Homo sapiens: one gene and its partner. The protein of the gene in region 2 interacts with the protein of the main gene of each other region in a pairwise test. Each region holds a gene or a part of one and is shown on either strand. Other genes may lie near its edges.

What was found.
Region 1: the proteins of ROPN1L (region 2) and AKAP7 interact in a two-hybrid assay, tested with the Homo sapiens proteins (one large-scale study listed by BioGRID).

Annotation. Positions count from the first base shown.
Region 1 is NC_000006.12:131,169,717-131,173,536, reverse strand, and holds part of AKAP7 (A-kinase anchoring protein 7), read right to left. Parts: intron 1-3,820. UniProt on the Homo sapiens protein: Probably targets cAMP-dependent protein kinase (PKA) to the cellular membrane or cytoskeletal structures.
Region 2 is NC_000005.10:10,458,611-10,462,254, forward strand, and holds part of ROPN1L (ropporin-1-like protein), read left to right. Parts: intron 1-2,573; coding exon 2,574-2,749; intron 2,750-2,755; exon of another isoform or gene 2,756-3,644. UniProt on the Homo sapiens protein: Functions as part of axonemal radial spoke complexes that play an important part in the motility of sperm and cilia. Important for male fertility.

The DNA of each region.
Region 1 (3,820 bases), on a different chromosome or scaffold from region 2:
TATCCCTAAAAATAGGATTTAAGATAACTCCAAAGAAGTATACACTATAATAAGTAAATTTAAAATAAAGAAAATGAGACAAACAGAAACTAAAACTGGAAAGATAACATGAAGCCAGGTATGAGGTAAGTGCACAAAAAGAATAGCATTATGTCCTATATTCTAAATTGAAGTATGCAATAAACTGGATTCTAAGTGTTCAAGTAACCAATTCTAACCCAAAGACACAAGTTAAATGTTCAACATTCATTAGGTAAAAAACAACATGTTCAAGAGAAATAGTCCTGATATTAAAATTAAAAAGAATTTTTTCTTTTTTCTTTTTTTTTTTTTTTTGAGATGGAGTCTCGCTCTGTCACCTAGGCTGGAGTGCAGTGGCACGATCTCGGCTCACTGCAACCTCCGCCTCCCGGGTTCAAGTGATTCTCCTGCCTCGGCCTCTTGAGTAGCTGGGACTACAGGTCCCATCACACCCTGCTAATTTTTTGTATTTTTAATAGAGACGGGGTTTCACCATATTGGCCAGGCTGGTCTCCAGTACTGGCCACTCCTGACCTCACGATCTGCCCACCTCGGCCTCCCAAAGTGCTGGGATTACTGGCATGAGCCGCCGCACCCAGCCAAAAAGAATTTTTTCTAATCAACTCATGTTATTTAACAAGATATAATCAACATTTGTAATACTTAAAATAAACACAGAGAATTTCCATAAACCTGTTTCTTAGAAAATCATCAAATAATGCCAAAAGAATTATAGTAAAAGCAATTCTGTAATATCAATTCTACAAAGTTTTACATGATTTTGTCTAAGTACCTATACAATTTTTTTGATGGTCTGGCTTAGTCTAGAAATGTATTTCTCAGTGAGAGGAATAGACGCTCTTGCAACAAATAGAAAAAGAAAGGAGGGGCTGGGCACAGTGGCTCATGCCTGTAATCCCAACACTTTATGAGGCTAAGGTGGGACAACTGCTTGAGGCCAAGAGTTCAAGACCAGTCTGGGCAACATAGTGAGACTCCAACTCTTAAAAAAAAAATTAGCTGGCCATGGTGGCACACACCTGTAGCTGAGGCAGGAGGATCGCTTGAGCCTAGGAGGCTCAAGGCTGCAGTGAGTCATGATTGCACCACTGCACTCCAGCCTGGGTGACAGAGCAAGACTCTGTCTTTAAAAAAGGAAAGGGGAAAAATGTTATGATAAACATACCTAGTAAAGATGTAATAGCCAAAATATTTCCTCCATAGAAGTCTTGCATATCCTTTAGTTGATTTATTCCTACATGTCTCTACTGTTCTTGTTATTAAAAATTGTGCCTCTTAAAAAATACTTTAATTATTTATAGGTTTTTGTATACTGATCATGTACCTAGGGACTTCACTGAAGCTATAAGTTTCTCCTATGCAACCTAATAATTTGTCTTTCTCTCGATTTTAAAACTTCTAGCTATCATTTGTTTTTCTTTGTGACGTCAACGAACAAAGTTTCTTCATACTCTCTATGAACCAGAAATCTCCTCAATTCATAAAATCCAATATACTGCTCTCTGATCACACCTCCTAATTTTCCTGTCTCACTCTTGAACTTCTACTAACTCTAATCTTCAGCCCTATTACTCTATTCTCCTTCCAAATATTAGTCCCATCCAGACTTCACTGCCTTTTCTAATGTACGTCCAATAATGATCACATCAAACATTCTACCACTCTCTTGACAGTCTGGCTCCTTTGTCTTTTTACCACACCTACCATACAAGTGCTCCAGTATGGATTAATTCAGTTTCCCCTCTCCATTCTCACAGCTAAATCCTACATAGTACTTGAGAAGATCACAGATTAGTACCATTACAAATTTCTGCACTCATCCCAAATGCAGCTTCTGCATTGCTCTGCAACCCCATTACATGCTGCTTATTAAACTTTCCCCTTCCATTTCCCTTGGTCGCCATTCTAAACTTTCACCGCTCTCCTCATGCCCTTATTTTACCTTCACTGCTCCCTTTAGCATACGAATCTCATTTGATGGTATCTCTAGATTTGCAATTTATACTTCAGTAACACTAAACTACTTGTAGGCCCCTAAATAGGACTTGATTTATTTGCATATGCTGTTCCCTCTACCCAGGATACACTCCTCCAATTTGTCCAACCAGAAAACCTGTATTTACCCTTCAAATGTCAACTCAAACGCTATTTCTCCTATGAAATCTTCCTCAATCCGCCCCCTTCTCCTTCCTATGTGCCTGCTATACTCTGTGCCTCTGCCTCTAGCTACAAAAATTATTGTTATTATTATATTGCACTGTAATTGCTTGCCTGTTTGTTTCTGCACAAGGCTATATGCTCCTTAAAGGAAAAGGATCTTTTTTTTTTCCAGTTTTCTATCCCAAGTACTAGTTGGCACTGGCTAATTGCATGCTAAAGGAATGAATTCTTCCTACTCAAGTATAATTCCTTGGGCCCAACATTATGTAGAAGAAATGAAATTTAGAGGTAATAAATTTATAAAAACCTTTGCTAAAATGAATGCGGCTGTGTCACTAATAACAGCAATAGTGAATTTCACATTTGCAACCCAATTGAAATGCTGTTATGTAAAACGTATTTCAAGTACATAACAGAAATCTTCTACTATAAAGATAACTAAACAGCTCTACTTCTGATACATCTGAATGGATAATGAACTCAGCGAACTTAAACCATATACTAGACAGCACAACTGACACTATGCTAAATGTCATTCTAACAATTAATCTGTATGATAATCCAGCCCTATATAAACACTGACATTCACAAAAATATTTATCACAAATATCTTAAGAACACAAAAGAAAAACCAACAATGAAACCTGATCCTCACTCCCTGCCAAATGTACACTTTTAAATGGGCAATTATTAAACTGCAAAGAGGCAATGTAATATTAAGTGAAAAGGATGTCCCAATAGATCACATACAACAAGATGCCCTTTTTATTAAGTTAAAACCAACTAAAATGAAAATACATATACTTTGGGAAAATAAAAGGAAGTAAACACTGACTTCAGGATGACAGTGAACTTAATTGGAGGAAGGCCAAAGGATGCATTACTGAAAGGACAATACGGTTAGATTACTACCAAAGCACTAGCTTCTGTTTGGGGTGGTAGATTCCTAGGTTATTATTTTTTTTTTCTTTTTTTCCAGATTCTGCTCTATTCATTCCTATAGATGATTGTTTCTTTTTTTTTTCTTTTTTTTTTAAATTATACTTTAAGTTTTAGGGTACATGTGCACAATGTGCAGGTTAGTTACATATGTATACATGTGACATGCTGGTGCGCTGCACCCACTAACTCGTCATCTAGCATTAGGTATATCTCCCAATGCTATCCCTCCCCCCTCCCCCCACCCCACAACAGTCCCCAGAGTGTGATGTTCCCCTTCCTGTGTCCATGTGTTCTCATTGTTCAATTCCCACCATTCCCAGGTTATTATTACATTGCTTTTTAAGAGATAGAGAGAGAAACGTAGATACACAAAGAGAAGGAGGGATGGAAGCAAGAAGAGAGGAAAGAGGGGGCAGAGAAAGAAAAGCAAAGAAGGAATAATAGATAGAAAGAAAAAAAAACACAGATAAAAGTGGACCAAGCATAGACCAATAATGCAAGTGTGTTATGAACCAAGGATTATTGAACCTGCAATGAGATGACATGAAATGACATGACATGACATGACATGAAATGAAGTGAAAATAAAAATTTCTCACAGCATGTAGGCTAATACCCAACCTATTATCTCTGGATCAAACTGAAGTCACTCATCCAGGTTATGATTTTTTTTCTG
Region 2 (3,644 bases):
CACCATGTACATCATCCCCCCATGTACACCGTCCCCACCATGTACACCATCCCCCCATGTACACCGTCCCCACCATGTACACCATCCCCCCGTGTACATCATCCCCTTGTATACACCACCCCACCCGTGTATACCGTCCCCCCATGTACACCATCCCCTCGTGTACACCATTCCCCCGTGTACACCATCCCGCCCATGTACACCATCTCACCCATGTACACCATCCCCCCGTATGCCCCATCCCCCCGTGTACACCATCCCCCCGTGTACACCATCCCCTCGTGTACACCATCCGCCTGTATGCCCCATCCCCCCACCGTGTACACCATCCCGCCCGTGTACACCACCCCACCTGTATACACCACCCCGCCTGTATACCCCATCTCGCCCATGCTCCCAAGTCTCCTCCGTGAGCGCTAGGCCTACTAAGTAGCCACCTGAGTCACCAGTTCCACTGGGCGCCTGACAGACATGTCAGTGGAAGCCACCCCAAACTCAGCTTCTCTCTGGAACTTTTGCAGCTGTTCAGGCACCAAACATTGGAACCACTTTTCATGGTTCTGTCTCTGCCCACATGCAACCACCAGTGAGTTCTGGTAACTCCACCTTCAGGAGAGGCTGAGTCCGGCCCTTCCCAGGCCCCTGGCTGGATTATTCCAGCAGCCTCCTTGCCAGGTTCCCGCCTTCCACCCTCCTCACCGGGTTCCCGCCTTCCACCCTCATCACTGGGTTCCTGCCTTCCACCCTCATCACTGGGTTCTTGCCTTCCACCCTCATCACTTCTCTTCACACATCGGCAGAAGGACTCCTTAGAAACACTCTACAGTGCTCCGTCTTTGTTTAAAACCCTTTGACACCTTCCCATAGACCCCAGCCAAAGCCCAAGTCCTCCCTGGGTCTGTAAAGACCTCCGTGATCTGCCCCCACCCCATCCCGCTGACCTCATTTCCCGCATCCCTGCCTCTCCATGGCCTGCTCTAGCTACCTGGAGCTCCTGGCTGTTTCTGGAGCACACAGAAGTGCCCCTGGAATTCTCCCAGCATCCCACATGACTGGCTCCTTCCCCCTGGGTCTGTGCTTACATGCTCCCTGCTCTGACCGTCCCTGACCACCCGATTGAAAATGTCATCCTCCACCCCGGCACTGCCTGCCTGCTGCTCCAGGCACGCCCTCTTCCAGAGCACCCTAGAATCCAGGTGTTGTGGCTCTCCCACTTGACTGTGATCTCCACATGAGCAGGCGTTAGGTGTCTGTTCACTGCTACATCCTGGTGTGTAACAGGCACTTGGCAAACGTGGAGGGAATGAAGGGCTGTTGCCATGTGTGTGTGTTGGCGAGGGGGGTTACGTTTAAGCAGCCACCTGTGTGAGCTCACCTTCATCAGTAGGCAGCGTGACCATCCAGGCAGGTATGAGATAGCCACTCTGGCAAGGACGGCCTTCACAGAAGGGACTCGAGGTGGGGACTGAGGGGAGGGTCCCATAGGCCAGCTGCGGAATTAGGACACCTGCCCCCACAGCTTACCCTGGCCAGGGTGTTGAAGGCTGCAGGTCATGATGTCTTGGTGCAGAAGGAGAAAAGGAGACCTGGGCTATGTGTTCTCTTTTGAAAAGATAGTAATCTTATGTTACATGGTTCTCCCACCTTCTTGAAACAAACACACAAACAGCTCATGTTTTTTCAACAAGGATGAATTGAGCAAGTTGGAGGTGGGAGGCCATGGGCTGGCCCTGGGGAGCCCTGGTGCCCAGGCCCTGCAGTTCCAGCGCCATGCAGCCTCTGGTCTCATGAAGACGACCTTGGCCTGTTAGCTGCCCCCCACCCCCGCAGGGACTTGGCTGGGAGGGCAGGTGCTAAAAGTGTCTGCCGTGTGGAGGCAGGAAGGCTGCTCAGAGGATGGGCTTTCCCGCTGAAAGCAGAGGGTGGGCTGCTGTCTGGGATGAGCCCAGCAGTTTGGAAGAGTGTGAGGGAGATGAACGGTCTCAGGGAGGAAGTCCGGTTGCTGTTCTGGAGCTGAGACAGAGCCCAGAGCCTTCTGTGTGAACAGGGAGAGAGCCAGGACAGAGCCCGGACAGAGCCCTCCCTTCTGCTCGGTGGGCAGGCATTGGCAGACACCCAGGGCTTCCTTGTAGGCATGCAGGCCGTTGGCTGCCAGCCCTGCCCTCTGCAGGCAGCACCTCTGGCTGGTGGCAGAGTTCATTCAGCCCCTGGGCACGTCCCCGGGTGTGTCTCCGGGCCAGATGGGGCTGCACAGTTCTGCATTAGCTTAGGAAGTTGGTTTTCAAGACATTGATGCTTCCTTTTGTCTGTAACAGTCATTTCTATTTTAATAGAAAATAAGATCTGTGAATTAGAATTTTTTCCTGGTCAATTGCACCCCATTCGAACCTTTCCTTTTCATTTTTCATTATGGCAATTGTACATTCACCTAGTTCTCAGTTCAGATGGAGCACATACTTTTTGGAGAATTTCTGTCAAATATGCTAGAGTGTTGATTCTGCTGATGCCTGCTTTCAATGTGAGTGATGCCAGGAGTAACTGTTTTTCTCCCCACCTGGCTGTGGTGCTCCCAGTCCTTGAACACTGCGCTGAAGCACCTGTGCGAGATCCTCACGGACGATCCGGAGGGCGGGCCCGCTCGCATCCCCTTCAAGACGTTTTCCTACGTTTACCGCTACTTGGCCAGATTAGACTCAGATGTGTCTCCCTTGGAGACGGAATCCTACCTTGCCTCTCTAAAGGAAAATATGTAAGTATGCACCCTCTCTAGGATTCAGGTATGTTGACCATGGGAGAATTTCCTGTTTCACTTCCCCCTTGTAGGGAAAAACTCAGTTTTTCCTTTGCTCTCTCACCACAACAATAATCAACACAGAAGACTGCTATGATCAAATGTGTGGAGGTTTTTCCTCACCAAAAAGCAAGCAAGTGGTCCTGCAGCAGACACCAGCTGTGCATTCTCATTCCGTCTCTACCCTGTCTACCTGGAGATAGCCTGAGATCCCACAGGTTGAGGGTTCAGTCCCCAAGACTGCCCCCACCCTGCCCCATTTCTGATGCTAGTTGCAAGCCCCAGGTTATTTTGCCTGTGCTTCTGACCGACTGGCTCTAAATCAGGGTTCCCACAACCCCTCCTTGGGTCAATTAATTTGCTAGAATGGTTCACAGAACTCAGGGAAACACTCATGTTTACTATTTGATTACAAAGGATATTTTAAAGGCTACCAACAGTCAGAGGAAGACAGACAAAGGGCAAGGTCTGGAAGGGTCTGGAGCATGGGGGCTTTTGCCCCCATGGAGTTGAGGTACATCCCCTCCCTGCCCGCAAATGAGCTCTTGTTCACCTTCCTGTTGGTCTCGATGTGTTTAGCTTCCGGGAAACTTTCTAAGCCCTGTCCTTTTAGGGTTTCTTTTTCCTGGAAGCTTTGTGATTGATTAAATCATTGGCCAATAGTGATCACCTAAGCCATCAGCCCCTCTCCCCACCTCCAAGGTTGGGCTGGGCTGAAAGTCCCACCCCTCTAATCCTGCCTTGGGCTCTCCAGTGACCAGCCCCATCCTGAAGCTACCTGGGCCATCAGCCAATCACAAGCATAAAGAAAGAACTCACTTTGGAGATTCCACAGATTTTACTTGTATGCCAG